Linked DNA regions of Homo sapiens. The protein of the gene in region 3 interacts with the protein of the main gene of each other region in a pairwise test. Each region holds a gene or a part of one and is shown on either strand. Other genes may lie near its edges.

Region 1 (7,987 bases), on a different chromosome or scaffold from region 3:
GTTTCACCATCTTGGCTAGGCTGGTCTTGAACTCCTGACCTCCTGATCCACCTACCTCAGCCTCCCAAAGTGCTGGGATTACAGTCGTGAGCCACCGTGCCCAGCCATCATCCCAGGTCTTTAGAGGACTAAAATCATGTTCATCTTTGAGAACTGCCTAGACAGCAAAGAACCTGCTGGCCTCTAAGCAGTAGGATTTCTAGCCATCAGGAAAGGAATAGGAATTTGCTCGTTGAGTTTAATTTTGTGCTTAAAAATATATGGCCTTGGCTTGGTGCCGTGGCTCATGCCTGTAATCCTAGCACTTTGGGAGGCTGAGGAGGACGGATCACCTGAGGTTGGGAGTTCGAGACCAGCCTGACCAACATGGAAAAACCCCCTCTCTACTAAAAATACAAAATTAGCCAGGCGTGGTGGCGCATGCCTGTAATCCCAGCTACTCGGGAGACAGAGGCAGAACTGCTTGAAACCAGGAGGTGGAGGTTGTGGTGAGCCGAGATCATGCCATTGCACTCCAGCCTGGGCAACAAGAGCGAAACTCTGTCTCAAACAAACAAAAAAAGGCCTTGGACAGATATATGCTCTATTACTGAAAAAAGAGATGTGAAAACAAACTCAGGTTCTCTGCTAACGCCAAGATATTCCTCAGCAGCTAGTCTGCCAAGGGTAGAGCACTAGCAAAAGCACTTTCACTCAGCGTTTAGATTTCAGAATAGCAAGACAGAAAACAGACTTTTGTCTCCAGGCCTGGAAAGTGGTAATTAAGTGGATTCAGATCTGGCTTGTGAGATACTTACTTTCGAATGAAGACTGGCTTAAGGCGAGGCTCCATCTCATCTTCACTGTCTGTGTACTCTTCATACTCAGACTCTGATTCTGACTCCTCTCCAGAACGACCCTCATCTTCCACTTCCATGACTTCCATCTCTTCATTTTTTCTCTCCTGTGCTCGCTGACGCATCATGCCACGCCGCCGCTCTATTTCCTATCAAGTCATATATATAAGCCAGTCAGTCAAATGGCCTATGGCTTTTTGTTCGTCTCATCAAACACAACAAATTCAAATGTAAAAAGATACAACTTAGTATCATTCTATTTTTAATCCTATCCCCACAAACAAGGAACATGATCAGAGTCCTGCCAAAGCAGTGATCTCATGTTTTTAAGGCTTCAACAAATGAGCACTGGCATGAACTTTTTCTTATATCCAGAAAAAAACTTCCCATGTTCCTTTATCATACCTCATCATCAATTTCCTCCTCCTCTTCTTCACTGCTGTCTTCTCGTTCCATGCGCCAAGCATCTCCTTCTACTTCTGAGTCACTCTCTCCTACCACTTCAGGTTCCACTATTTTTCGATGTCGAGCCAATCTGAAAAACAGTATCTCCAAATGTAACACCAATGTCATAAAAATGAAGTAGCATCAACTGCATTTCCATAGCCACAGAGCACATTATGTTTGCCTTCATTAATACTGAAGTTTTTTTTTTTTTGAGGCAGGGTCTTGCTCTGTCGCCCAGGCTGCAGTGCAGTGGTGCGATCTTGGCTCACTGCCACCTCTGCCTCCCAGACTCAAGTGATCCTCCCACCTCAGCCTCCTGAGTAGCTGGGACTATAGGCGTGCCACCACACCTGGCTAATATTTGTATTTTTTGTAGAGACGGGGTTTTACCATGTTGCCCAGGCTGGTCTTGAACTCCTGGACTTAGGCAATCTGCCCACCTCAGCCTCTCAAAGTGCTGGGATTATAGGTGTGAGCCACCATGTCCATCCAGTATTAAAGTATTGAGGTGGAGGAAACTGAGGTGCAGATTAAAGAAACTAAACTAGGATGTCAGAGCGAATAGTCAAGTTGGGCCTGAAATACTAAATGTATGTTGAGGCATCCTGGGGCACCACAGCAAGCCAGCAAACTCATAGGGATGCATTGGGATTTTTTTTTTTTTGAGACAGAATCTCACTCTGTCACCCAGGCTGAAGTGCAAGGGCATGATCTTGGCTCACCACAACCTCCACCTCCCAGGTTCAAGTGATAATCCCTGCCTCAGCCTCCCGAGTAGCTGGGATTACAGGCATGCACCACCACACCCAGCTAATTTTTTTATTTTTAGTAGAGATGGAGTTTCGCCATATTGGCCAGGCTAGTCTTGAACTCCTGACCTCAGGTGATCCGCCTGCCTAGGCCTCCCAAAGTGCTGGGATTACAGGCATGAGTCACTGAGCCTGGCCTGCATTGGAATATTTTTAATAGCTCAAGATAATTCACTTTCAACATTAAGTCACACTACATTCCTTTCGAGAATATCGTGTCTTTGTGAAACTGGGTTTTGGTGGCTGCTGTGATAAAAAGTAAAAGAAAGTATAGTATGAAAATCAATATAAAACAAGACATGAAAAAGTGACAGTGCTGATTCCAAGGTTTGAAAGGCTGTCAGTGTCCAACAGGCAAACAAATTCCACTAGTAACTATGGTTATGTGAGAATGAATAAAAGTGTTTTTTCCCCCCTGGGCACTGTAATTTTATTTTTTTTTCTTTTTTCTTTTCTTTTTTTTTTTTTGAGATGGAGTCTCGCTTTGTCACCCAGGCTGGAGTGCAGTGGCGTGATCTCGGCTCACTGCAATCTCTGCCTGCCAGGTTCAAGCAATTCTCTGCCTCAGCCTCCCAAGTAGCTGGGATTACAGGTGCCCGCCACCAGGCCTGGCTAATTTTTTTGTATTTTTAGTAGAGATGGGGTTTTACCAAGTTGGCCAGGCTGGTCTTGAACTCCTGACCTCGTGATCCACCCGCCTCAGCCTCCCAAAGTGCTAGGATTACAGGCGTGAGCCACCGCACCTGGCCATGGGCACTGTTAATCTTCAAGTGGCAAAGTTATTAGGACATAAATACTTATTAAGTTACTTGGCTCTAACTACTTAATAACTAAAATAAACAGAACTGTTTTGGCCCAGGAGCTCTGTGAAAAAACTCCTGGGACAATTATGAACGGTGAAAGTTCAGGACTCCTGGCCTACTCTATAAAGTAATGTCTCCATCAATATATAACATACAAAATCCCTCACTGGGAGGCTCTCTTTCTACCATGAGACCTTTATAAGGTCTTTTCTCCTACTTCAGTGTCATTTCCCCTTATTAGCATTTAGAATAAGTAGATGTATAAAATCAATTTACCAAAGTTTATAAAACATCTTTGTGCTAAAAAGACTCCTCTCAACAGCCAACAAATGGTCTGTGTTTTCTATTCCCATAAGGAGTTGAGTAGGTCCTTTAGGCCAGAAGTAACCTGCTGTTTCCTGAAGCTGCCACTTTGTAGCTTTGGTCATGTAACTTTCTTAGCCCCTTTGTGCTCTTAGTTTCCTCCTTTTGTGAAATGGGGATAATAGCACCTATTTCATAAAGTTATTGTATGGATTACAAGAATTAGCAAATGTAATCTACTTGGTAGTACTATTCAAGTATTAGCTATTATTATTATTATTAAGCTGTAGAGGTTCATGTTCAAGTAAACACAATCACAGACATTACCTCTCTTCCACATCTTCACTAATACGGTTCTGTAAACGCCGTAGCCGGGGGTCACTGGATGAATCCTCCTCCTGTTCCTCAGGCTCTGCTTCTTGTTCTTTGGCTTTCTTAATGAACTGAAATTCTTCATCCTCCTCATCTGAGGACTCCATAGGGGCATAGTCTGGCCTTTTTCCGGACACATAACGCTTTACCTTCACTTTTTCCATTGAAATCTCACCTGGGCGAGAAAGGTAACTTATGTTTCAGTAGCCTCTTTCTCAATGTGCTTCAACCCATCACGGCCTTTGCAAATAGAGCCCTTTATTCATAGTAGACAAGAGTCTAAGCAGAAGAAGAAGAGAGCCACTACCCAACCATCTACTCTTCTAATGGTGTTTTCCTACAAAGGCCAAGTCATGAGACTGCATCCTTGTGAAAGCCAACACTGATGATAATGAGGCTTACCTTGAGTACAATGAAGTAGAGGAAGGTAGGCAGTGAAACAGTAGAAAAAAGTCCCCCCCCAAAAAGGCAGACTGCATCCATCACAAATTCATGGTATCCCACCTCAACTATACCCTTAAACAAATTATTTGTAACAGTGCCCAGCACATAGTAAGGGTAATTTCTGCAGGAACATAAAACTGCTCAGGCATTCTTGTAGTTCCCTCTGGAATTTCCATGGCAGCCTTTATAACATACTGCCACATGACTCAATATTCTAATCTTACCTATTTCTACCTTCTTTTCCTTTACCTTATGTGTTATCAAACATGCAAGAGTATGTAATCTCTTACAAATACAATTCTTTTTTTTTTTTTTTTTTTGAGACGGAGTCTCGCTCTGTCGCCCAGGCTGGAGTGCAGTGGCGTGGTCTCGGCTCACTGCAACCTCCGCCTCCCGGGTTCAAGTGATTCTTCTGCCTCAGCTTCCTGAGTAGCTGGGACTACAGACGCATGCCACCATGCCCAGCTAATTTTTTGTATTTTTAGTAGAGATGGGGTTTCACCGTATTAGCCATGATGGTCTCGATCTCCTGACCTCATGATCCGCCCACCTCAGCCTCCCAAAGTGCTGGGATTACAGGCGTGAGCCACAGCACCCAGCCTACAAATACAAACAATTCTAGTGAACAAAGACAGTGAAAACTAACCAACTTATTTTATGAGTATAACCTTGATAACCAAATTGGACAGTTCAAAGGAAAACTTTAGGTGGATTTCACTTACAAACACAAATACAAAAATACTAAATAACGTAAGAGCAAATTTATCCCAGCAATATAAAAACTACCAAAAAAAAAAAAAGAAACAAAAAAAAAAAACCCCTAGACCAACACAACTTATTAGAATTTAGCCCAAGACTAGAAGGATAGTTTGACCTTAGAAAATTAATGAGGGGGCCAGGTGCAGTGGCTCATGCCTATAATCGCAGCATTTTGGAAGGTTGAGGCAGGAGGATTGCTTAAACCCAGGAGTTCGAGACCAGCCTGGGTTTAGACCTCATCTCTACTAAAAACAAAAAAAATTACCCGGACATAGTGGTATATGCCTGTGGTCCCAAGCTACATGGGAGGCTGAGGTGGGAGAATCACTGGAGCCCAGGAGGTTGAGGCTGCGGCAAGCCATGACCACACCAAGGCACTCACTTTAGCCTGAGTGATAGAGTGAGACCCTGTGTCAAACACAAAAATATATATAGCTGGGCACAGTGGCTCATGCTTGTAATCCCAGCACTTTGGAAAGCCAAGGTGGGCAGATCAGTTGAGGCTAGGAGTTCGAGACCAGCCTGCCCAACATGGCAAAACTCCGTCTCTACTAAAAATACAAAAATTAGCCAGACATGGTGGCACAGACTTTTTAATCCAAGCTACTCAGGTGGCTGAGGCAGGAGAATAACTTGAACCTGGAAGGTGGAGGTTGCAGTGAGCTGAGATCGTGCTACTGCACTCCAGCCTGGGCAACACAGTAAGACTCTGTCTTTAAAAACAAAACAAAACAAAACAAAATTCCAAAAAAAAATGTACATAGATAGATAGATGAACAATGGGAGGGAAGCAATATACTATTTTTACTTTTTAAAATTTTATTTTTGTTTGTTATTTTTTAAAAGGTAGAGAAAGGGTCTTGCTATGTTGCCCAAGCTGGCCTTGGACTCCTGGCCTCAAGTGATCCTCCAGCCTCAGTCTCCCAAAGTGCTAGGATTACAGGTGTGAGCCATCTCTCCTAGCCTACTATTTTTTAAAGTCACATTTTTAAAAAATAATAGATACAGCAGACTTTATACTTAATGATAAAACAATAGAAACATTCTATTTATTTATTTATTTATTTTTTTTGAGATGGAGTCTCGCTCTGTTGCCCAGGCTGCAGTGCAGTGGCATGATCTCCGCTCACTGCAACCTCCGCCCCCTGGGTTCAAGCAATTCTCCCTGCCTCAGGCTCCTGAGTAGCTGGGATTACAGGTGCCCACCACCATGCCTGGCTAATTTGTGTATTTTTTAGTAAAGACAGGGTTTCAACATGTAGGCCAGGCTGGTCTTGAACTCCTGACCTCAGGTGATCTGCCAGCCTCAGTATCATAAAGTGCTGGGATTTCAGGTGTGAGCCACTGTGACTGGCCAGAAGCATTCTCTTTAAAAATCAGTGGGCATCCAGCTGGGTGTGGTGGCTCACGCCTGTAATCCCAGCACTCTGGGAGGCCAAGGCGGACGGATCACAACGTCAGGAAATTGAGAACATCCTGGCTAACACAGTGAAACCCCATCTCCACTAAAAAGACAAAAAAATTAGCCAGGCATGGTGGCGAGTGCCTGTAGTCCCAGCTACTTGGGAGGCTGAGGCAGGAGAATGGCGTGAACCCGGGACACAGAGCTTGCAGTGAGCGAGATAGCACCACTGCACTCCAGCTTGGGCAAGAGAGCGAGACTCCGTCTCAAAAAAACAAAAAACCAAAAAATTAGCCGGGTGTGGTGGCACGCACCTGTAGTCCCAGCTACTCAAGAGGCTGAGGCAGGAGAATGGTGTGAACCCAGGGGCGGAGCTTGCAGTGAGCCGAGATCGCGCCACTGCACTCCAGCCTAGGCGACAGGGTAAGACTCCATCTCAAAAAAAACAAACAACAACAACAAAAAAAACCAGTGAGCATCCTAATGTTGTACCTATCACACCTTCTAGTCAACACTGTATTATGGTTCTAATTTGGGCAATAAGGAAAAGTTATAAGGATTTAAAAGGAAGAAACTGCCATAATTTGCAGATTATATGGTTGTCTTTGTAGAAAACACAAGATAACAAATAGATAAAAGAGTTCAGAAAAAATGCTAGATAAAAAACTTATTTATAAAAATAAGCATACCTGTACATTAGCTACATATAATTAGAAAGTACAATTTTATTTTTATTTATTTTCTTGAGACAGGGTCTCACTCTGTTGCCTAGGGTGGAGTGCGGTGGCGCAATCATGGCTCACCGCAGCGTCAGCCTCCTAGGCTCAAACCATTCTCCTGCCTCAGCCTCCCAAGTAGCTGGGACTACAGGCGTGCAACACCATGCCGGTCTAATTTTTAAAATTTTTTTGTACAGACGAGGTCTCACTATGCTGCCCATGCTGGTCTTGAACTCCTGGACTCAAGTGATCCTCTTGCCTAGGGCCTCCCAAAGTGCTGGGATTACAGGCGTGAGCCACCATGCCTGGCTTATTTTCTACTGTTTGAGAAAGGGTCTCATTCTGTTACCCAGGCTGGTGTGCAGTGGCATGATCACAGCTCACTGCAGTCTCAACCTCCTGGGCTAAAGTGAGCCTCCCTCTTCAGCCTCTCAGTAGCTGGGACTACAGACAGGTACCACCCAGGTAATTTTGTTTTTTTGTAGAGCACTGTATTTTTTGGGGTCTCGCTATGTTGCCCAGGCTGAAGAAAATATAGTTTTAAAATACCATTAACGGTCACAAGTAATCTATAAGATACTGTGGAATAAATCCAACAAACAATGTACAAGGCTTTTAGGAGGAAAAATATGTAATTTTATTGAAAGATAAAAAAGATGTAAATAGAGAAATATTTCATGTTCAAGGATGAGAAGATGGCAACTGCACCTGAATTAACCTATAAATGTATAATCTATCATTTTAATGCAATTCCATTAAAAGTTGTCTCCAGGCTTATTCCAAAATCATATGGAAGAACAGGAGGCCCCAAAATGCCAAGACAATGCTGAAGAAGAATAAAGCTGATGGGGGCGGGGAAGGAGGGGTGGGGCATAGTTTACCAGATATGTCAGTGACCCAGGAAGTACACAGAGATCAATGTAACAGAGAAAAGAAAAACAAACTTATATGAGAACTCGAGTATATTATAGGGATGGCATTAAAAATCAGTAGAAAATGGATGGGGTGAGAAGGGACAATTGGCCAACCATATAGTAAAATTAGACCTCTAACTTCCACCACAGACACAAAAATTCCAGATGGATTAAAGACG
Region 2 (7,388 bases), on a different chromosome or scaffold from region 3:
TTACAGGTGTGAGCCACTGCACCTGGCCTATTTTTAAAAAAACTGACAAAAATTTATATATATCTAATATGGTACTGTGTAATATATAATTATACATTATATATCATTATATATATAATATATATATATGGTACTGTGTATTTGTTTTGAAAGATGGATACATTGCAGAATGGCCAAATTGAGCGAATTAACATCACATACTCATCAGTTTCTGTGGTGAGAACACAAAATCTACGCTGATTTCCAAGGATACATTGTTATTAACTATAGTCATCATATTGTACAATAGATTTGTTGAATTTATTTCTCCTGAAATTTTGTATCCTTTGGCCAGCATCTCCCACCCCCAACCCCTCAACCAGCCCCTGGTAATCATCATTCTACTCCTGGTTCTATAAGCTCAACTTTTTTAGATTCCACACCATATAAGCAAGATCATGAAGTATTTGTCTTTCTGTGCCTGGCATATTTCACTTAATGTCCATCAGTTCCATCCATGTTGTCACAAGTAACAGGATTTAATTTTTTATGGCTAATATTCCACTGTGTATACAGACCACCTTTTCTTTATCCATTCATTTGTTGATAGACACTTAGGTTGATTCCATATCTTGGCTACTGTGAATGCTGCTGCAATGAACATGGGAGTACAGATTATCTCTTCAACATACTCATTTTCTTCAGATATTAATATATACTTAGTAGTGGGATTGCTAGATGCTATAGGTAGTTCTATTTTCACTTTTTGAGGAACCTCTACTGTTTTCCATAATGGCTGTGCTACTTTACATTCCCAACAGTGTGCAAGGGTCTCCTTTTCTGCATATCCTTGCCAACACTTCTTTCATCTTTTTGATAAGTCATTCAACAGGTATCAGGTATTACCATTATCTCATTGTGGTTTTAATTTGCATTTCCCTGATGATTAGTGATCTTGGACATTTCTTCATATACCTGTCAGCCATGTGTATGTTTCCTTCTGAGACATGTCAATTCAGGTCAAGTCATTCCTTCTAACAGTAATTGGACAGCAAAGCCAAATTATATTAAGGCACTTCCCAGTAACATTAAGCCATATCTTCAACACTTGGAAGAATGTTTTCTGAGCCTTCGTGCGGTAAATCCAAAAGGGAGTTTTGTTCACTGCTCTAACCTACTGCCTAGAACAATGCCTGGCACATAGCAGGCACTCACAGTTGTTGAATTATTAGGCAAAATATGCATAATATCTTTATTATCTTAGCAGAGGGGGTAAATCCTCAAGTCACAATATACAGAGAACAGAAAGTAAGTTGTAAAATATTTTTTATTGTAAAAACAAAGTCAATAAAGGTTGACAATGTAAATGTTATCTCACAACATTTCCCCTTGGTTCCTGAATTTGCTAGATTCCTATGTACCAGCAAATCTCCATTAGCATTTCTCAGGTTTCATGATCCTTTTCAGATATGTTGGTTGATTTTATGTATATATTGCTTAGAAACAAAAATCCACCTGATATTAAAACAAACCAAAAAAAATCATAAAAGCAAGCAAATGAACAAAAAACCCTAGTTTTGTTGTGCTTTTCTTTCACATTTCCTACAGGGAGATTTGTATATCTCAGATACTTTCAAAATCTAATAGGTAAGTAAAATTAGTGCCTTAACCAAACAGTAAGATACCAAAGAATCCTCCATCACAAGTTACTGAATCAAACTTCTCATGACATTTGCGGTATATTCAGATTTGAAGATTTTTTAAATTTAGAATTTAAAACAAACTTTAGACTGCTGATTTTCCATATTTCAAAGACTGTAGTTGTTTGCAGCATATAAATGGAAAGAGTAGTGCAAAACGCATCAAGTTTTATATGATAAATATATACTTTCAACCTAATGGCTGCCTCAAAAGTAAAGAGTGAACAATTACTTCTCAAAATAAATCTAGATTGACTTAAAGTTCACAATTTAGAAATAGCAATTGCTACTCTATTTCCATAGATTGCAAAATGATTTCAAATACAGATTATACATACAATTGTTTTACAAAAATAGAAATATTGTTTGGGATTTTACAAAACTTTATAAAATATAACACTATATTTGCAAATTCAAGATAGTTTCACACTGAAATAGACAATACTTCCACGATATGAAGTCTAGCCAAACTTAAAGTGGTCTGCCTTGAGGCCATTCTTACATATTATTTCTTCCAAATCTTCAAGCCTAGGTAAATCTGTGCTCTAACACAGGCTTTGTAAAAAAGAGACTGTTTATTTTCAAGGGTTTTATAAGATTTTCAATCCAGAAATAATGTTAAAGCATAAGAATTTATACCTAAAAAATATGTCTTACTAAAGGTAGAAGCTAATGCAGTATGACAATTCTGTATAACTGATAAATTTCAAACCAAATTCCTAAGAATGACAACTTTTATTAATTTAAAATATATATTTGACAATTATAATTTGGGACCTATATAAAACAAAAATATAATCACAACTATTTTATGGAAAAATATTTATTCATATAGAGTGAAAATACCTCCAAACTTAGTTATTTGTAGCTGTCAGATGAGAAGTATTTCCTAATTACACCCATTCATAAACACTCATTTTATCACTTCAAAGAGCACCAGTGTATTTTTTCAACAAACCAGAAAGTAAGAAGGTAGGGGCTTATTTCATGTAACAGTGCTATTATGATAAGGCACCACTAGGTATATGAAAAAGCCAAAGTATTTCCAAATCATGTGTTTTTGTTACTGGTGTCTTAACCATTAGACAGGATGGTTAGAAAAAAGCTGCTAACATTATTAATGAACCACATTATAGCCCCTTTCCCACCATTCTGTGCTTTTAGTTTTACTTATAACAGAAATGAAAACAACAACGTAGTACATGACCTGTTAAAACAAACATCTTTTCCCAACCTTCCAAGAAAATAACCTAAAAATAAACAAGAAACAAAAAATTTATCTGATATATTTGCAAAAGCCTATCCCTGTAGAAGAGTGTGAGGAGTGGGAGAAGGCAGGGGGACCTACTTTCTATGGAATATATTGAGGCACATAGGTTACAAGTTTCTCAGGCAAATTCATGGCTAGAACAAAACAGAGAGAGAGCTCAGAATCTTACATTTCCCCCAAAGTTGATTTCTCAGATAGCCACACCTGATTAAATACTCCCAAATGTGTCCTTAGTCACTGCTATCATCATCGTCATCATCATCAGACATATCATTTAAAGGAGACTTCAATGACTGGCTGTAAGAGTCTGATCTAGCAGGCTGGCATGTGGCCATGTCCCCAGCAGAAAGCAGGTCATAGCAGAAGTCACAAATCCGCACAGGCTTAGAGGACTGGCTGGGAAGAAGAAATCTCTTTTCAGAGCAGGGCCCACAGACAACAAAACCACATTTGCGGCAATGGTGGCGACGATTAACAGGTGTGAATTTTGCTTTCTGACAACGCATACATACAGTTGCCTCAGAGTCAGGAACCCAGACAGCAGCATGTTCATTACTGGGTGTCTTCCCACTTTTGGAGAGTAAATCAGTAACACATTTATTTATATGATTCATCCATTCTGATTTCTCCGTAGCAGTGGCAGCATAAACTGCAAAAGATTTAGTTGGTGTCTTGATTAGCCATCCATTCCTTAAGTCTCCCTCATCTTTGATGGAATCAATAGTGACATTTTCCAGGGGAATAATATGTTGTTTGTTATATTTTTTCTTCTGGATGACAATATTGCCATATACAAGAATATCATTAAACAAGAAAAACTGCCTTGCTTTGGGCTTTTTCCTGCACAACTTAGTCAATACTCCTTCTCCAATAAGAACTCGTCCAGGTATAGTTAAAGGTTGACCAGCTGCTCCAAAACAGTTTTCCACTATACTTATACGTCTAGTATTTGCTTCACTGTTTGCCAAGCGATCCACCATCTTTCACTAATAGCCTTTTAAAAAAAAGAAAAAGAAATTAGCACATATAAATTATAAATTCCTATAAGTTAATTATATATAAATTAAGCTAACAAATCATTGCTTTTACACAAAGGCAAAATGTTCTAAAATTCTTTCCCTCTAAGATAATCACTAAGCACATCAAAAGGGCTAACATTTCTCAATTTTTAAAATGATGAAAAACACTTATTTATCATCTCCACGTAGCACCATACTAGTTAAGCAGGTATTTGTAAAAGTATAAACTTCCTACAGACATAATTGAATGAAAGACGATTGGATAATTAACATAACTTATCTCTGCAAAATAATAAACCCCATTCAATGAAATGTAATCTCAATGGGATTCTGAACAATAGGGAACAAAATGTTACATAAACTAAGAAAAATGACTACAATTTTCCAAGTAAGCTATTACCACTGAGCTACAGCCTTAATTCTCTCACCTGGATTACTAGAACTGTTTCCCAACATGTGTCCTGGCCTTCAATCTTGCCCCCAAATCAATCTTTGGGCAGTGATCTCTAAAACCCTAATTTGACCCCATCATTGCTCAAAATGATCCCTTAACCTATTAAATACAGGGTGTTCACGGCCTTTCATTACTTGGTTCTTGTCACTCCAACCTCACCATAAGTCAGTCTTCACCTCAAATGTCATATTCTAAGAACACTCTACTACTTGTAGTCCATTTCACTGTTGTTCCTTTTACTACTTACTACTGCAGCTAACTCATATTCATCCTTCGAGACTTAGTTTAGGTAATCGTGTCTCCTCCAGGAAGCCTCCTTTAAACTCCCATGCTAGACTAAAACCCTTCCTGTGAGCTATCCATATTCCATGTATATTCTAGCTTCACTTTTACCAAAGGACTGAAATCTGTTCCTCCAGAGACCATGCAGAACCTAAAAAGCAGAGATCATCTGATAGTTTTGTTTGAAACTGATACGGTTTGACACAGAAAAGGTACTAAAAAATGTTAATAACATTTTAACAATGTGCAAAACACCCTATTAATCTAAACATTTAATCTCTAAGTCCAATATTGACTTCACTCAAGTCCCAGAGTTGTATCCTATTTCAAACCTACTAAACTAATACTACTATACTATAACCAAGTCATATTAAAGAACAACAAGCCTTGAGAAGAAGACCATTTAAAGTTTAAAGACTAACAGCATAGTATGTAAGTTCCAGTATTCAGCTCAAAAACTGACACTATAGCCCTTCTTGGCCTTCATTATAAAGGACACTAGAATTCTGGTTATTTCTGAATTCTGTCTCCCTGCAAATCTTGGGTCCTTATAAAGCCCTCTTGTCCTCCACAAAAGTAGGATGTAGCAGGCCTAAAAGTTGTTCCCAAGAATTAATAGGATAATGCATGGTTCCAAACTGGAAAGGTTTCTAATTAGGACTAATATGCCAGCCAATTAAAAGCCTACTATCCTATGCACAAGTACATCACAGAAAAGGAAATAAAAACGGCTAATAAACAGGAAAAGAGGTTTCAATCTCTATCATAATTAAAGAAATTATATTAAACATTAGTATATTTTTCACTTAGATTAATAAAAATTTTTAAATTTACTAAGATTCAGTACTCATAAAGGTATAGGGAAATAGGTACCCTTGTACACTACAGAGAATATGTGTATTCACCAATCTAATTAAATAAATTTCACTCACGTGCATAGAGATATATACAAGGATAATCAGCACAGCATTGTTTATAACAGGAAAACAATTGGAAAAGCTCCAAATAGCCATCAAGAGGAACTGATTGAAAAAGTTATGACACACCCTTAATCATATATCTTGAGAATAAGACAGATCTAAAACCAGTGACAAGGGAAATGCTCAAGATCTTTAGGTGGGGAAAAGAGATGAACTTCCTGATCTCATTTTTATTTCAAATAAATACCACATTTCATCACATCTAAGGTGCTATAGATTTTAAGACATATTTATGTGCAACTCATAAAGAGAAAAATGTTGCCAATTAAACCACAGCATACCGTTGATTATAAGACCAATTTCAAATACATATAGTAAAAAATGTTTATCTTTAGACTCAATGGAATACATATTTCAAAAGCATAATCATAGACATCTGTATCTGTAAGCACACACACAACATAAAGTTAAAAAATATATACTATACTATCAACAATGGTAATTTATCTCTGGAAAGTATAATTATGGATCATTTTTTCATACTTTACATTATATTCAAGCATTCCACAAGTATTTGTCAGGCACTTAGGATCTAGGTGCAGGAAAAGTAAAAATAAACACCACAGGCGATCATACTTGAGTATGTGACAACAGATAAAAATTTTAAAAAATAATAAATTAAACAATACAGGCAAGGTCCCTGCTCTTCAGGGTTTACATTCTAGTTGGAGAGAAGGAAAGAGAAAACAAAATTGAAATCTAGTACTAATCAATGCTATGATTTTTTTTTTAAAGTGATTTTTAAAAGAAACTGAGAGCTATTCAGACTACATGGTCAGGAAAGGCCTTTCTACAATGTTGTCATTTCAGCTGTACTAGATGGACAGACATAAGAAGGGGTAAGGATAGGGGAGAATATTCCAGACAAAAGGAGTAACTGCAAAGGCCCTAAAACAGGAAAAGACATTGGCACTTTAAAAAAAAAACTGAAAGGATCTATTTCTCTCCACCTGAATCAACTACTGAGTCCACCCATTTGAACATATCGTTATTAACTCATATACAACACAAACAGATTTCCTATTATTGCTACTATGAGAATTAATACTATCATAAATTTGTACTGTGCTTTTCATATTATTTTCTGATTTGAACTGTTTGAAATGCCTATGAAGTTACTAGAGAAGTTTTTATTGTCCCCCAAAGAAGCATCTAATAATATTAGCTGAACTGTGAGCTGATGAAGAAATTAAGGCACAAAGATATTTAATAATGTAAAAGCAAAACTTAACCTGGAATGAACTCTACTCATAGGGAGTCCAACCAATGTGCTGAGCACTTTGCACTTATTACTGTATTTCCTCCTCACAGCAACCTTATGATACATGCACTATTAGCTCCATTTTATGGATGAGTAAACAGCCAAAGAGGGGTTAAATAACTTGCCCAAGGCTGTCACAGCAGAACAAGCCTCAAATCTGATTTCTCTGTGATGTTACAGTATGTTATGGTACACTAATTGTTCCTAAGAACTCCACTGAATCTACAAGAACTCTAAGGAAGCTATTAACTAACCTCTGGACCTTCATTGCAAACCCTAAAAATACTGAAGATAAGGGAATACTACCTTGAACAAATCACCTGAAAGGATGGATATGTCATGATTTACCCAGCTGGTGTCTTGATAATCTTTCATTGTCCAAATGTTTCAATATATTAAGTCTAAATCTTTGTTCATAAATCTTTCTCCCTGTTTAATAATGA
Region 3 (7,940 bases):
GGAAATCACCAGGTAAACTGCTGTCACCACATACCAATGGTTTCTAAGCTTAGTGGGGATCTCAACACTGACTTGTGCCCTCCATGCCGCTTGTCCCATTCCATAAAGTGGCTACTACAAAGCCTCAGCACAGTCCTTCAGCTTTTAGTACAGTTTGTCCTCAAACTAACATGAATAAGAATCAGCTGGAGGGGCCAGGCACAGTGGCTCATGCCTGTAATCCCAGCACTTTGCAAGGCTGAGACAGGTGGATCACCTGAGGTCAGGAGTTTGAGACCAGCCTGACCAGCATGGTGAAACCCTATCTCTACTAAAAAATACAAAAATTAGCTGGGTGTGGTGGCAAGCCATGTAATCCCAGCTACTCGGGAGACTGAGGCTAGAGAATCACTTGAACCCAGGAGGCGGAAGTTGCAGTGAGCTGAAATCGTGCCACTGCACTCCAGCATGGTGACAGAGCAAGACTCTGTCTAGGGCAGGAGGGGAGGCGGGGGGGCGCGGGAGGCGGGGAAGAATCACCTGGAGATCTTGTCAAAGTACAGATTTTTATTCAGTAGGTCTGTAAGGAAAACTGAGATTCTGTTGGGTTTTGTTTTTGTTTTTTTGGGATGAGGTCTCACTGTCACCCAGGCTGGAGTGCAGTGGTGTAATCTCAGCTTACCGCAACCTCCATCTCATGGGCTCAAGCGATTCTCCCATCTCAGCCTCCCGAGTAGCCGGGACCACAGGCACACACCACCATGCCCTGCTAATTTTTGTATTTTTGGTAGAGACAGGGTTTCACCATATTGCCTAGGCTGGTCTCAAACTACTCAGCTCAAGTGATCCACCTGCCTCAGCCTCCCAAAGTGCTGGGATTACAGGTGTGAGCCATGGTACACAGCCTGAGATTTTGTATTTTTAACAAATTCCCAGGTGATGCTGACACTGAGTAGTAAGACTTGTCTGCTGCAGCCCCCACTCTCAGAAGATGACATGTCCTCTTGCTTTGAGATGGAAATTAATCAGACCTAAATTCATTCAACTTTCTCTTCATACTCCTTGCTTCAAACTTATCAGTAACCGAATCTAAGTTTTCTTCTTTACTTCCTAAGGAAGTTGCATCCTATTTAAATCTTAACTCTCCACATTTGCTTCACTTATGCCAACCCCTTCCACCTTTTTGGGTAGGTTGTTCCTTTCTTAGTGTCAATCTGTCTCCTGATTCTTCTCCATAGGGTGGACTGGCACTGTTCAATACAGTAGCCACTACCTACATGTGGCCACTGAGCACCTGAAATGTGGTTAAATTGAGATGTGCTATGAGTATAAAATACACGAGACTTTGAAGACTTAGTATGAAAAAAATATTTGTTTGTTTGCTTGAGACAGGGTTTCACTTTGTTGCCCAGGTTGGAGGGCAGTGGCAGGATCACAGCTCACTGCAGCCTCCACCTCCCTGGCTCAAACACCTCCCACCTCCTGAGTAGCTGGGAGTACAAGTGCATGCCACCACGCCTGGCTAATTTAAAAAAAAAAATTTTTTTTGTAGAGATGGGGTCTTCCTATGTTGCCCAGGCTGGTCTTCAACTCCTGGGCTAAAGCTGTCTTCCCACGGCAGCCTCCTGAAGTGCTTGGGATAACAGGCTTGAGCCACCACACCCGGCCATTAATGTTTTAAATCGATTACATGAGGCCGGGCGCGGTGGCTCACGCCTGTAATCCCAGCACTTTGGATCCCAGCGGGCGGATCACGAGGTCAGGAGATTGAGACCATCCCGGCAAACACGGTGAAACCCCCCTCTCTACTAAAAATACAAAAGGACCCGGGCGTAGTGGCACGCGCCTGTAGTCCCAGCTACTCGGGAGGCTGAGGCAGGAGAATCGCTTGAACCGGCAAGGCAGAAGTTGCAGTGAGCCCAGATGGCGCCACTGCACTCCAGCCTGAGGGACAGAGTGAGACTCCACCTCAAAAAATAAATAAATAAATAAATTGATGACATGTTGAAATAATATTTTGCATATATTGAGTTAGATATATAATTAAAATTAATTTCATCTATTTATTTTTTAACTTCTCAAAAATTTTTTTTATTTTAGAGACGCGGTGTGGACTGCCTCGAACTCCTGGACTCAAGTGATTCTTCCGCCTCAGCCCCCGGCCTAGCTGGGACTACAGGCGTGCACAACACAGCGCCTGGCTTTTTACTTTTTAAACGTGACGCCTAGAGAATTTAAGCAGGGGTGTCCAATCTTTTGGCTTCCCTGGGCCACACTGGAAGAACTGTCTTGGGTCACACATAAAATACTGATCATGATAGCTGATGAGCTAAAAAAAAAAAAAAAAAAAAAAAAAAAAGACAAAGAAAAAGGTCCGTGCATAAATCTCATGATGTTCTAGGAAAGTTTACGAATTTGTGTTGGGCCGCATTTAAAGCAGTCCTAGTCCGCATGCGGCCTGGGGGCCGCGGGTTGGACAAGCTTGATTTAGAGTTTTGTATGCGGCTTCCCTTATATTTCTATTAGCCAGGACTGGCACAACACAGGATCATCGCTACCATCCCACCTATACACAAAAAAAAAGGTTGGAAAAAAGAAAAACAGGTCCAAGAGTGGAGGTGGCACTTCCCTCTGCTCTACCCCCTACCCATCGCTGCTCTTCCTCCTTTTCCCAGTCACCCCTCATGTGCCAGGGTGGCTCCTGACCCAGTACAATTGCTCTCCTAGAGGTGACCAAAGACCTCTTGGGTGGCAAATGCGATCAGTGCTTTCCCCGCGGCCTGACCGTCCCCTTCTCATTCTACGGGGCTGCGTGCAGGCGCGGCCCGGTCGCCTCGGTCGCCCTGGCAACTGGCCGCTGCCGGCCCCCGCAGGCCTTGGCAAACACCCGCGAATGAACCGCCACGCACGCGAGGCCACTCCAGCCTCCGGGTCCGCACCATTCATTCGGCAGCTATTTCGGGAGGGCCTCCCGCGTGTCCCGAGTCCGGTGCCGGGAGCCCAGGCGTCACGCAGCGCGGCGGGAATGCGCCTCCGCACACTTAAATGCCGCCCGCGCCACCGCTCAGATTGCTGGTGACGAACGCTCCCGCGGCCGCGAGAATGGCTGACGGCTCCCCAGCCCAACCCCGCTGCGCGTCTGGCGGGCAGGCGTGGGGCTGACACGCAGCAGGCACCCCCTCGACTTCAACCCAACTGCAGGGCCCCGGGTCTCATAGCTGCCTGCGAGTGCCCCTCAGACCTGCGGCCCAGCCTGGTGTCCCCGGGTGGGCGGTTTCACACCCACCCGCTAAGTCCCCTCACGCGAGGCTGCAGCCGCCAAGCACGGGCGACAGGCGACGTGGCCGGCGGGACCCGAGAACGGCGCCTATGCCTGGCAGCTCCCTGCCCGCCCGCCTTCCTCCCTCGGGGTCTGGGTCTCGGGGGCTCACAACACTCGCGCGCGGCCGCCCTTACCGGGGCCGGGGCCGCCTCAGCCATGGCCCTGCGCTGTCTAGCCCGGGCCTCGGAAGTCGCCGCCGCTGCCGCCGCTGCCACCGCGCCCGGCTCCAAGCAGGCCCGGCCGCCGGGTCCTCTCCACAGGCGGCGCCGACCCGGCCCTGCCTTCCCCGCACGGACGGGACTCACGCGGCCGTCGGGGCTCGGGACGCGCAGGAACGCGGCGGAGGCGCGGTGCAGCAGGCGGCGGATCAAGCTGGGGTCGCGAGGCCGACTCCGCCGCACTCCACCCGCAGCGGCCCCTCAGCTGGCGCTTTGTGGGCAGCGAGTGCACCGGGAACCGCGCGGGCCTAGACGCGCCGCAGGCTCGCGCTGCCCAGCCACCGCGGCCAGCGCGCCCCCTGCCGGCCCCTGCGGCCAGCGCCCCCCGCGTCGCCTCCGCCCCTCCCCCCCAGCTCTTGGGCTTCGGTGTGGGGAGGGTTGTTATTTGGGGCCCACGTGTGTTCCGCTTTCTCACATTCCCACGAGAAGGTTCAGCTCACCGCAGTTTAGGACCCAGCCGCAAAGCCGGGCTCATTCTGGGGAGTGATTTTCTTCACGGAGGCTCGATACGCAGGCGCCGTCTGCAGGCAACAGCTTCTGCTGAAGGGCAGCCGTATTTAGAACAGCGGAAATGTGCAGGGTGAGAGTAAGGGGGACACGGCTGAAGGGAGCCTATGGGTGGAATGAGTGACGGAGAGGCACAATTTTGGAATGAAGAAGATATAGATCATTTGCGGAAATTACAAATGTGGTTGCCAAGGTGAGGCGGTTCAGGTCCCACGCGGCCTGTGTTGGGATCAATAATATTTTAAGGTCTCCTTCACATCTCGGATTATTGACTCTCCGGGGCCTGGTCTGGAAATAGGATTCTTAATTTTTGTTTATTTATTTATTTAGAGACGGAGTCTCACTCCGTCGCCCAGGCTGGAGTGCAGTGGCGGGATCTCGGCTCACTGCAACCGCCTTCCGGGTTCAACCGATTCTCCTGCCTTTGCCTCCCAAGTAGCTGGGATTACAGGCATGTACCACCATGCCCAGCTAATTTTTTTTTTTTTAAGTGGAGACGGGGTTTCACCATGTTGGCCAGGCTGGTCTGAAACTCCTGACCTCAAATGATCCACCCGCCTTGGCCTCCCAAAGTGCTAGGATTACAAGCGTGAGCCATTGCGCCCGGCCTTATTTATTGATTTATTTAGAGACAGTCTCCCTCTGTCGTCCAGGCTGGAGTGCAAGTGGCACAAACAAGGCTCACTGCAGCCTTAAACTGCTGGGCTCAAACGATCCTTCCCCTCAGCCTGCCCGAGCATCTTGGACTACAGGCGCAGCTACCAAGCCCGGCTAATGTTTTATTTATTTGTATTTATTTATTTACTTATTTATTTTTCTGTAGAGACAGGGTCTCGCTATGTTGCCCAAGCTGGAGGAAGTGGAATTCCTGAGAGCAGCAGAGATCGAGCTTGGGGTTACGGTTTGCTGCGTCTGAGCAAAAGGACCTGCGAGAACAGGCCGAGCGCAGTGGCTCACGCCTGTAATTCCAGCACTTTGGGAGGCCGAGGCGGGCAGATCACCTGAGTTCCAGACCAGCCTGGCCAACATGGTGAAACCCCGTCTCTACTAAAAAATACAAAAATTAGCCGGGCGTGGTGTCGTGCACCTGATATTCCAGCTGCTCCGGAGGCTGAGGCAAGAGAATCGCTGGAACCCAGGAGGCGGAGGTTGCAGTGAGCAGAGATGGCAGCACTGCACTCCACCCTGGGCGACAGAGCTAGACTCCATCTTAAAAAAAAAAAAAAAAAAAAAGGACCTGCGAGAACAAAGTGTTTTCTGGTGAGGTTGTGTTTTAAGTCAACAGAGTGTGTGTAACAGCAGTAGGTTCCTTGCCCAATGCACATAGCAAGTCTATATGCAGAGACACCAGGTTGCAGCAGAGAAAGAGGTCTAATCATAGGGCCACCTAAGGAGGAGACAGGAAGAAGCCTCACATCCATCTCTGCTAGGAATTTGGGAATTTGGGGTTAGAGTTTGTAAGGGTAATGGAGTTGACTGATTGGTGGGAGAGTGCTGGTGAAATCGTGGTACAAGGAGATGAAGAAACTACATTCTCATGCTCATCCCATTCCTCTGTGGGGGGTCTTCAAACTGGTTGAACTCAACTGTTTCACCGGAACTCGTGGTCTGAAAAACATCTTAAGCGATCCTTAAACAAAAGCCTTATGATTCTAATGTCAGAGATCCTGTCTACAGGAACAACAGGGATGCAAATCAATTCTTAGTCTGATGTCTGAAATCCTATCTATAGGAACAATAGAGATGCAAATGTCAGTATCTAGTGCCTTGTGACTATTAGCAACAAGGAAGTAGGCCGAAGTGCAGCCTGATTAATGCTTAATTATAACTATATTTCTGTCCAGAACCTGCATGCAATTTTTGTGAACCCTGTTGGGGCGGTTTCATGTGTGTGGTGATAGGATAAGCACATGACCCTGGTTTTCCAGGAAGTCTTCATTTCAAACATGTATGAATCAAACCCTGCTAAACCTGTATTTCAACACATGAATCAAGTCAATGCCCATAACAGTATAACTATCTGTAAATCACAAAAGTATGAGAACTATCCTGTTGGGGCAACTGCTCTTGAGCAGACTAAGTTACTTTTCGCCTGTGGCTACATATGCAGTCCGTAATTTGGGATTTACCTGAATATACATATTTGTCAGATGGTGAATGCTTAATAATGAAAATTGCCATTCTCTGACTCACAATATGAGTAGATTACAAAAAAATAATAATCTGAATTTTCTTGGAAAGAAAATTCTGTTGTATAATTTTATTATTTAAAATGTAGTAGCCGAGAAGCCGGGCACGGTGACTCACGCCTATAATCCCAGCACTTTGGGAGGCCGAGGTGGGTGGATCGCCTAAGGTCAGGAGTTGGAGACCAGCCTGAACAACACGGTGAAACCCCATCTCTACTAAAAATAGAAAAACTAGCCGGGCGTGGTCGTGGGTGCCTATAATCCTAGCTACTCAGGAGGCTGAGGTAGGAGAATCACTTGAACCTAGGAGGAGGAGGTTGCAGTGAGCGGAGATTGCACCATTGCACTCCAGCCTGGGAAACAAGAGTGAAACTCCATCTCAAAAAAGAAAAAAAAAAATGTAGTAGCCGAGCACAGTGGGAGGCCGAGGTGGGTAGATTGTTGGAGCCCAAGAATTCAAGGCCAGTCAGGGCAACCTGGTGGGACCCTGTCTCCATAAAAAAATACAAAAATTAGCCTGAAATGGTAATGCACACCTGTCGACCCAGTTACTCGGGAGGCTGAGGTAAGATCACTTGAGCCAGGGAGGTTGAAGCTGCAGTGAGCTGTAATAATACCACTGCACTCCAGCCTGGGCGACAGACTGACATCCCATCTCCAAAAAAAAAGTAGTAAAGTTTTCAAGTTTGATGTTATAAGGCAAGAACAACAATTTCTGTCAGATGCTCCTATGGCCATTTAACAGGGACATTTGTATTACTAAATAAGACTTCCAACTGAGCTCCATAGAAAGCAAGGCTACCTCTCTGCTTTAATATGGTAATATTACCACCAACTTATTAAATGTTCCTTCCTTGAATAGGAATATATTAAGACAAGAAATTCTTCCTATTTAATTCTTGGCCTTAAAAATTCTTTGGATGGTACTGGCATTTCATTAAGCAATTTCACTGACTGAAGCTTTTTGTGTACTGTTTAAAGAAGATGCACAATATTTTCAGAAGCAGATGTAAGGTTGTTGTACTAACTTATTTTTAATTTATAATATTTTTGTCTGCTCTTGCTGCTATACATAATCACTAGAGAAAAAAATTGTCCTAAAAGTTTGGATCTAGAAATGTGACTATGAAACAATTTAATTGGCTTTTTTGGGGGGTTGTTTGTTTGTTTTTTGAGATGGAGTTTTTACTCTTGTTGCCCAGACTAGAGTGGAATGGCGCAATCTCTGCTCACTGGAACCTCTGCCTCCCGGGTTCAAGTGATTCTCCTGCCTCAGCCTCCCAAGTAGCTGGGATTACAGGCATGCGCCACCATGGGGGCTAATTTTGTATTTTAAGTAGAGACGAGGTATCACCATGTTGGCCAGGCTGGTCTCGAACTACTGACCTCAGGTGATCTGCCCACCTCGGCCTCCCAGAGTGCTGGGATTACAGGCGTGAGCCACCGCACCCTGCCAATTGGTTTTTGAGTTAACAAAATAATCCCAGTTTCCATCTGCATCTTGACTTTCCCTGCATATGCACACCAATTTCAGCATCTTCCTTTGCACAGAATCAAGGACAGATTTTTTTCAGCATGTATGATGTAAAAAATACACTGATGGCACATCAATTTATTCAGCAAGTTCCAACAAACTCTTTTGTCTTCAAGCAACCATTGGTTATTGGTAAATCTTGCTACATTGGTAATATTCTCTGAAAATTACAAAATTAAAGCCTTTATCCG
Region 4 (8,699 bases), on a different chromosome or scaffold from region 3:
CAATGAGGCTCCAACTAGAGACTCCTTAAAGGAGCGTACATTAGAAACAAAACAAAACAAAACAAAAAAACCAAGGCCGGATGTGGTGGCTCATGGCTGTAATCCCAGCACTTTGGGAGGTCGAGGTGGGTGGATCACCTGAGGTGAGGAGTTTGAGGCCAGACTGACCAACATGGCAGAACCCCATCTCTACTAAATACAAAAAAATTAGCTGGGCATGGTGGCTCATGCCTTTGATCCCAGCTACTAGGGAGGCTGCCTCAGCCAAGGCAGAAGAATCGCTTGAACCTGGGAGGCGGAGGTAGCAGTGAGAGGAGATCGTGCCATTGCACTCCAGCCTGGCAACAAGAGCAAAACTCTGTCTCAAAAAAGAAAAAAAAATTCAAAAAGGAGTGATGTATGAAATGTGTTAGCAAAAGAGGCATCATTCCTGAGACCACTAAATGAGAGCACTGGCGTCCTTCAGATTCCTGGATGAAGTTATGGGGAACCTCAAAGTCACCAAGAGAGAAACTCATTTGTTTTCACTCCTGAGTCTTGGAGATACTTGAGGATGGATATGCCTTCGAAATACTTTGGGAAGTCCTTCAACTGCCACGAGAAAGAGTTCTACAAAATTACAGTTGAGTGGGAAGAGAGAGGGATTGTAAAAATTCCATGTAATGGAATTTATACGGAAATGCACAAAGGGACTGAGGGCAGGTCAGGTGGGTGGATGGCAACGTGGAAGCAACTGGGGAAGACGGTGTTACCTTCAATCTCATCTTGTCCCAGTGGTCTTTCCTGGAAAGGAATGCAGATGAGAGGGAATTTGGAGAGAGGGTCACCCATTCTCCAAAGGGTCTCCTTGTTCTCCCAAGCTCCTCCCCACGCTCTCGTGGTTCTCTTTCCATTCTCTCTCTCCTCCTCCATCCCTCCCATTCCTTTTCCCATCTCCTGACTCCTGTTCCACAGTTCTTGGCTCCCCACCCCCCTCTCGATGTCTCTCTCCCACCCACGAATCCCAATCTCCCTTTTTCTCCCTTTCTGAGACAAACACCCATCACATTGTGTCAAAGGGGGTCTTAAACACTGGGGAGTCCAATCTCCAGATGAAAAAAGTGAGACTTCACAACCACAGCTAACTCATTCAGAGTGGTGACTCTGTGCCAGGCAGTTTCCACAATCATTTCATTTAAACCTCAGTACTGCTCTGTGATGCAGATCTACATCTCGTTTCCATCTTACCCATGAGAAAGCTGAGGAACAGAGAGGTTAAGGAACCTGCACAAGGTCACACAGCTCACAAGCAGCAGATCCCCTCCCAAGGGAGGAAGGCATTCACCTGCTCCCTGGAGGTCATGGGGCAAGTCAGACACAGTATTGGGATTTGAATTCAGGGCTCCTGACTCCCAAGTCAGAATTCTTCACACTAGCCCCCATTCACTCCTTTCTCACCTGCCTCCAATCTTCCTGCCAAAGGTTAGAATCTCTGTGCATGGAAACAGCATTCAATGGCTTTCAGGCAGGAGGGTCAGTGCCAGCATGACCAGTTCCTAAACACTCTGAGAATGTCCAGTTATTGCTGCCCCACCTACTCCTGCACATACCTGAAGGGTTGGGCTTACATATACATGGCATGTTAACAAGGAAATTCTACTGACCTCTGGTCTCTTTAGCCTTCCCATCTCCCTTTATCCCTGGAGCCTTTCCCTCAGCTTCTCTTTCATCTGATCCCCTCCTTGCGGTCCCTTATCACCCTTTTTTTCATTCTCTCTCTCTTTTTTTTTTTTGAGACACAGTCTCGCTCTGTCACCCAAGCTGGAGTGCAGTGGCACGAACTCGGCTCACTGCAACCTCTGCCTCCCGGGTTCAAGCGATTCTCCTGCCTCAGCCTCCCGAGTAGCTGGGATTACAGGCGCCTGCCACTGCACCCGGCTAATTTTTGTATTTCTAATAGAGACAGGGTTTCACCATCTTGGCCAGGCTGGTCTTGACCTCCTGACCTCGTGATCCACCTGCTTTGGCCTCCCAAAGGGCTGGGATCACAGGCGTGAGCCACTGCCTGGCCTTTTTTATTCTCTTTTTTTGGTGATCTTAAAGCCTAACAATGAAAAGTATGCCCACATATCTGGACAAGTTGGTATATATGGAAAAATAAAAAAATTTTAAAAAGCATGCCCACAGGAATCAAGCAAACCCGACCCTGCCACTTACTTTTTTTTAACGAGACAAAGTCTCACTTTGTTGCCCAGGCTGGAGTGCAGTGGCATAATCAGGGCTCACTGCAGCCTCCACTTCCTGGGCTCAAGCGATCCTCCTGCCTCAGCCACCTGAGTAGCTGGGACTGCAGATGCATGCCACCATGCTGAGCTATTTTTTTGTATTTTTAGTAGAGATGGGGTCTTGTGTTTCCCAGGCTGGTCTCAAACTCCTGGACATAAGTGATCCTCCCGCCTCTGCCTCCCAAGATGCTGCGATTCAGGCATGAGCCACTATACTTGGCCGACCCTGCCACTTACTAACTGTGTAAGCTTAAGGCAAATGACTTCATGACTCAGAGCTTCACTTTCCTCACCTGTAAAATGGGAATGAAAGTCACTGACCTCATGAGTTGTTCTGAGGTGTAAATAACATCAGGTGTGCAAATCCCTTTGCACAGGGCTGGGCACAGAACAATGACTTAATAAGTGGCAGCTATTGTTATTAACGTCATCATTATCATCACCACCACCACCATCATCACCACCATTATCACAATGAGCATCCATAGAAAAGAATGATGGTAATCTCAACAATGACATCATCCCACTTTCCCTTTTCATTTTTCTTCCTTTTCTCTCCTTCTCTTTGCTCCTGACTTTTGATTTTACCCCCACCCATTTATCTCACTGGCTTACATGACCCCACCAGGGTCCTTGGAATTTCTTATACCTTCTCAGCTCCTGCTCTATCCACCTGTTCCCCTGGTTCTGTGGCACCATCATGTCCCCTTCTTTGTCCCACACCCCTGCTCCCTTTGCCCCGCCCACCGCCCTTCCCCCTCACTCCCCACCTCACCCGCTGTTTCTCAGCAATGCCTTTCCTCAAGAAGATGCAGGCGGGGCCCATGGGGAACTGCATGGAGGGGTGGGGTGGAGCTCGCAGGGCACCAGTCTCAAGATGGCCCCTCCTCCCTGCTCCCTGTCGGAGCTCAGCCTCCTTATCTTCTCCAGCACTCCTTTGCCACCTCTTCCTGCCTCTCTTGGCTTCTCCTTCGGTCCCGGTGTCTTAGAGCTGTGACAGCTGGGCTGGAAATCTCTACCCGGGTTGGGGAGGGACCAGAGCTGTCCCTGCCTCCCCATCTGGCTTGAATGATATGGGTGGGGAAATGCAGAGTCAGGTTCTGTGACGCCTTTATCCCCAGAGTGGAATTGGAAAGTGCATTTTATAAATGGGGATTAGAGGCTGGATGTGGTGCTCATGTCTGTAGTCCCAGCGCTTTGGGAGGCTGAGGTGGGAGGATTGCTTGAGCCCAGGAGTTTGAGACCAGCTGAGCAACATACGGAGAGGCTGTCTTTACAAAAAATAAAAAAATTAGCCGTGCATGGTGGCACACACCTGTAGTCCCAGCTGCTCCAAAGGCAGAGATGGGAGGATTGCTTGAGCCCAGGAGTTCAAGGCTGCAGTGAGCTATGATTGTACCATTGCACTCCAGGCTGCAGTGAACTACGATTGCACCATTGTACTCCAGCCTGGCTGACATAGTGAGACCCTGTCTCGAAAAAAAGAAAAAAAAAGAAAAAAAAGAAAAGAAAATGGAGGATTAGAGCAGACGGCATCATTTATTCAATGTTCCAACAAGCATGTGAAGGGTCACTCCAACACTGGCCTCTGGGCAGTGAGATGGAGAGCTCAGCACCCCTGGCCTCAGGGAGTTTTCCTGGGTGAGTCGGGAATGTGTGAGAGTGAGCAGGATGCAAGCATGGACTTCAGGAAGTGGGCGTACACGGTGACTAAGAGCATGGCATTTGCTCTTCCTCTGTTCATCTCTTTCCTTCTGTCTTTCCTGAATGATTTAGAGGGAAAAAGCAAGGTGGGGGTGTCAGGGAGGGTGTGAAGTTATGGTGGTGTCAAAGCCCAAAGGGGTTTTGCGACTCCACACTAGGTAGGGTTAGGGGAGGAGGGGGCTGGGGGCCATCTGGCGTGGAGAGCCAGCATTCCAGTGGGGTAGTGGGGTGAGGAGAAGTCCACATAGAGGGGCAGCATGACCCAGGGTGTTGGGGCTGGAGATGGTGGGGATAAATCCACAGATGGGCAGCTTGGTGTGCAGTGTTGGAACATGAGCTGAGTGGGGCGGGGGCATTTATATGCAGGCATTGTCTGGGGTGGAGGTTTGCACTGTAAGGCAATTAGGAAGGAGGCCACATAGAGGGGATCTGGCATGGGTTGTCATAACCCAAGCAGAGAGAGAAATGTCCACTCATGGGAATAGCATGGTGTATGGTGTTGAAGCCAGACTAGGCTGGGAAAGACATCCCCACAGGGGTGAAATGGCAAAGGAAAAGGGAAATTGGCTACACACAGTGAGTAAGGGGAATGGGGGCCAGGTCTCCTACTGTTGGAAAAGGGAGTTACTAAGACAGAAAGGAGGAAAGTCGAATGAGCCCTGTGGTGTTGGACTATAACTGGAGGCGTTGGTATGTCCTCATGGATCTCAATTATACATAGAGAGATAAAAATAAACACATAGTTTCAGTGTGTATAGGAACATTTGTACACATATTCTCTAGCTCTCTCCACTAAGAGAACATAGAAACAATGATGGCCCATATGAATGAGCACCACTAGCATCCAAATCTTGACTTCTATATACCATTCTCCACCAAATGGAACCAGAGTGCCTAGGAAATTTGGCTGATTCCATGTCTAGAGCAAAAAAAGAACAAGATGAGCCTACAAACGTCCTATGCTTAAAGCAAGAAATTGCTCAAAGTGTTGTGAGAACATGTGGAAAGAACACAGGAGTCTGCTTGAAGAAGCTCCATTGGCCATACTGGGCAGTTTGAGAGTCAAAATAAATAATGATAGTAACAAATTATACAGGACCACAGAAGAAACCAGGAGTCCATACTCAGATAAATAAAAAGCTAAGTGAGAAGTTTGATATTTACAGAGCTCAAAATACCTCCCTACAAAATACCAATTTCAAAGGAGTTACGTTATAGTGGAGAAACGTGGCAAACACCATCTTAGTCAATGAAAGTGGACATCATCAGTAATGTGACAAGTTGGAATTTCACACCACCTGACAGGATGTCACGAGAACAGCATCGCTTCTGTAAGATTCCTGAATCTCATCATAATCAGACGTCAGACGAACCCACATGGAGGGATGGTTTACAAAATAACTGGCCTGTAAGCTTCAAAAATGTCAAGGTCATGAAAATCAAGGAAAGATTGAGGAACCGTTCGAGATTGGAGGAGACTAAGAAGACATGGCCGAGGCTGGGCGCGATGGCTCACACCTGTAATCCCAGCAATTTGGGAGGCTGAGGTGGGCAGATCACCTGAGGTCAGGAGTTCGAGACCAGCCTAACCAACGTGGAGAAACCCCGTCTCTACTAAAAATACAAAAAAATTAGCCCGGCATGGTGGCACATGCCTGTAATCCCTGCTACTCGGGAGGCTGAGGCAGCAGAATCGCTTAAACCCAGGAGGCGGAGGTTGCAGTGAGCCCAAGATCGTGCCATTGCACTCCAGCCTGGGCAACAAGAGCAAAACTCTGTCCAAAAAAAAAAAAAAAAAAAAAAAAAAGCTACGACTGAATGCAACACAGAATTCTGAACAGGATCCTTCTGCTATCAAGGTCTTCTTTCGGATGACTGGTGGTTTGCTGGCAATAGTTTGGCGGCCCTTGGTCAGTAGAGCCTCACCCCAATCCCTGCTTCCATGTTCACATGGTTTCCTCTCTGTATACATGCCTGTCTCTGTCTTTAAATCCCCCCCCCTTTTTTAAAAGAATTTTATTTCAAATCTGGGATACATGTGCTGAACATGCAGGTTTATTACATAGGTATACATGTGCCATGCTGGTTTGCTGCACCAATCAACCCGTCACCTAGGTATTAAGCCCTGCATGCATTAGGTATTTGTCATAATGCTCTCCCTCCCCTAAATCCCCCCTTTTCTTTCCTTTTTTTTTTTTTTTTTTTTTTTTTTTTGAGACAGAGTCTTCACTCTGTCACCAGGCTGGAGTGCAGTGGCATGATTTGGCTCACTGCAAGCTCCACCTCCTGGGTTCAAGCGGTTCTCCTGCCTCAGCCTCCCGAGTAGCTGGGACTATAGGTGTGTGCCACCATGCCCAGCTAATTTTTGTATTTTTAGTAGAGATGAGGTTTCACCATGTTGGTCAGGATGGTATCAATCTCTTGACTTTGTGATCCACCTGCCTCGGCCTCCCAAAGTGCTGGGAGTACAGGCGTGAGCCACTGCGCCCGGCGAAATCTCTCCTTTTCATAAGGACACTAGTCATTGTGGATTAGGGTCCACACGAGTGACCTCATCTTCACTTGATGACATTGGTAAAGACCTTATTTCCATGCAAGGTCACATTCACAGGCACTGGGGGTTACAATGGCCACATCTTTTGGTGGGGGTGGGACACACAATTCATCCCATAACAGTCCTGCTTTAATTCTGGAAAGCCTGTATGAATAATAATTGCTCTGGAACTCCGTCGGTGCCAGACTAACTATTCTAAGGTCTTGAGACTCATGAACTCATTTAAGCCTTTCTAGGATACAGGCTCCGTGATGGTCTATTCTACAGACGATGGAACTGGGGCATGGAGGCGAAGGCTCTTGCCCATGTTCTCATGGTAAGCAGATAACAGAAGTAAGATCCAAACCCAGCTGTGGAACCACCATGCTTAATTGCTGAGATATAGATGGAAGAAGATGGAAAGGAAAGGGGGAAGGGAAGAAAGGAACAAGTAAAGGGTACACAGAGGGTGAAAAGGGCCGCAGCAGGGGTGGTGGCAGACCAAGACACACACACACAGCTAATCCATCAGTCAATCAGCAAGCATTTATTGAGCACTTGTTGTATTCTCAGAGCTCCACTTGGCTGTGGAGAGATAGCCCATGATTTAAGCCCAAGTTCTTACTTCTACAGAGCTAACTTGTGCAGAGCTACTGGCTAGAAGTGCAGTCATAAAGGAGCAGTGGAAGGCATTGGTCTGAACTATCACATTCATTCTGGCCATCTGGACATTGGACATGATGCTTCTGATTGTCAGACACTCATGCTCCAGCTCCAGGATCTCCCGAGGGACCTGCAGGACAAATTTCACCACCTTCAGCTCCTTGGACGCCTTCTTCTGAATGACGCTATCAAAATCACAGTCTAGCTGGTCACTGGTGATTGGCCCTGTTAGGACAGCCAAGGTGAACTCAAGGCCATGAAGCGTGTGGCTGAAGGGAGTGAAGAACAGGAAGGCCAGGTGGACATCAGGGCCCTAGTAGACCAACAGGCCCACAGTGCCCTGGAAGCTGAGGCTCATCTATGCCAAGCAGCAACTTCGGGCACTATCCTTCGGGTAGTAGAGCCTGGGGAGAAAGGAAAGTTAGAAGTTACCACTGTGCTTTGTAGGCAGTGTTGCACACTGGATAAGATTAGAAGACCTGGAAGCCTCTACAGGTCATACATGACTTAGGAGAAAGACATTCATCCATTCTTTCATTCATTGAGAAGACCTGGAGCTCCACCACCTCCTCCTGTGGAGCTCTTGTGATCTACTTTTACCACGTAAACGTTTATTTATCCAACACTACGCTTATTAAGCATGTATCAGGAGCTGGGCTAGGAGGTAACTCTTTGGCCTACATCGAATGTCATGATACCTGCCAGAATTCACAAGATCTGATCTCTGTCCATCTCTCCAATCACATTTCATTCCGTGCTTCCCCTACCCTGATCCAGCAATAACAGCTTTCCTTCTGTTCCTCGAATAGACTGATATAGTTTGGAAATTCGTCCCCTCCAAATCTCATGTTGAAATGTGATCCCCAGTGTTGGAGGTGGGGCCCAGAGGGAGATGTTTGGATCATGGGAGTGGATCCTTCATGAATGGGTTGGTGCCTTCCCTGCGGTAATGAGTGAGTTCTTGCTCTATTAGTTCACTTGAGATCTGGTTGTTAAAAGGAAACTGGTGCTTTCCTCCCTTCTCTCTCTCTTGCTCTCTCTCACCATGTAACACGCCAGCCCCCCTTCCCCTTCCACCAGGATTGGATGCTCTCTGAAGCCTTCACCAGAAGTAGATACAGGCGCCATGCTTCTTGCACAGCCTACAGAACCATGAGCCAAATAAACCTCTTTCCTTTATAAATTACCGAGCCTCAGATATGCCTTTATATTAGTACAGAATGTTATAGACATAGGTAAGACACAGATCAAGGTCTTTCCCACTCCAGACACTTTGCATTTACTTTTCCTTTGCACAGAATTCTGTTCCCCAAGACTTCCTCATGGCCACCCCTTCTCAGTATTCAGCCCCAGGTGAAAGGTCTCTCCCTCAGGATGCCTTCCCAGACCCCCAGACCCTTTCCTAAAAAGCTTTCACTTTACTCCTCAGCACACCGCACGTTCGGTCGTCTCCATGGCACTTACTCTCCATGGCCATCCTGTTGACTTCTTTGTTTACCTGTTTATGTCATGTTGCCCCCCGGGAGGAGGTACAT

The links.
Region 1: the proteins of ZNF398 (region 3) and MFAP1 interact in binary tests that used the Homo sapiens proteins (3 or more experiments, as listed by UniProt).
Region 2: the proteins of ZNF398 (region 3) and PLEKHF2 interact in binary tests that used the Homo sapiens proteins (3 or more experiments, as listed by UniProt).
Region 4: the proteins of ZNF398 (region 3) and CABP5 interact in binary tests that used the Homo sapiens proteins (3 or more experiments, as listed by UniProt).

The regions. Positions count from the first base shown.
Region 1 is NC_000015.10:43,813,704-43,821,690, forward strand, and holds part of MFAP1 (microfibrillar-associated protein 1), read right to left. Parts: intron 3,746-7,987; coding exon 3,526-3,745; intron 1,372-3,525; coding exon 1,242-1,371; intron 986-1,241; coding exon 798-985; intron 1-797. UniProt on the Homo sapiens protein: Involved in pre-mRNA splicing as a component of the spliceosome.
Region 2 is NC_000008.11:95,150,586-95,157,973, reverse strand, and holds the end of PLEKHF2 (pleckstrin homology domain-containing family F member 2), read right to left. Parts: intron 3,944-7,388; 5' UTR 3,930-3,943; coding exon 3,180-3,929; 3' UTR 1,289-3,179; downstream 1-1,288. UniProt on the Homo sapiens protein: May play a role in early endosome fusion upstream of RAB5, hence regulating receptor trafficking and fluid-phase transport. Enhances cellular sensitivity to TNF-induced apoptosis.
Region 3 is NC_000007.14:149,143,262-149,151,201, reverse strand, and holds the start of ZNF398 (zinc finger protein 398), read right to left. Parts: upstream 3,750-7,940; 5' UTR 3,460-3,749; coding exon 3,436-3,459; exon of another isoform or gene 2,922-3,435; coding exon of another isoform or gene 2,919-2,921; intron 2,791-2,918; exon of another isoform or gene 2,686-2,790; intron 228-2,685; exon of another isoform or gene 1-227. UniProt on the Homo sapiens protein: Functions as a transcriptional activator.
Region 4 is NC_000019.10:48,040,821-48,049,519, forward strand, and holds the start of CABP5 (calcium-binding protein 5), read right to left. Parts: upstream 3,260-8,699; 5' UTR 3,103-3,259; coding exon 3,040-3,102; intron 784-3,039; coding exon 753-783; intron 1-752. Other genes in the region: PLA2G4C (cytosolic phospholipase A2 gamma isoform 2 precursor), read right to left, coding at 7,523-7,568. UniProt on the Homo sapiens protein: Inhibits calcium-dependent inactivation of L-type calcium channel and shifts voltage dependence of activation to more depolarized membrane potentials. Involved in the transmission of light signals.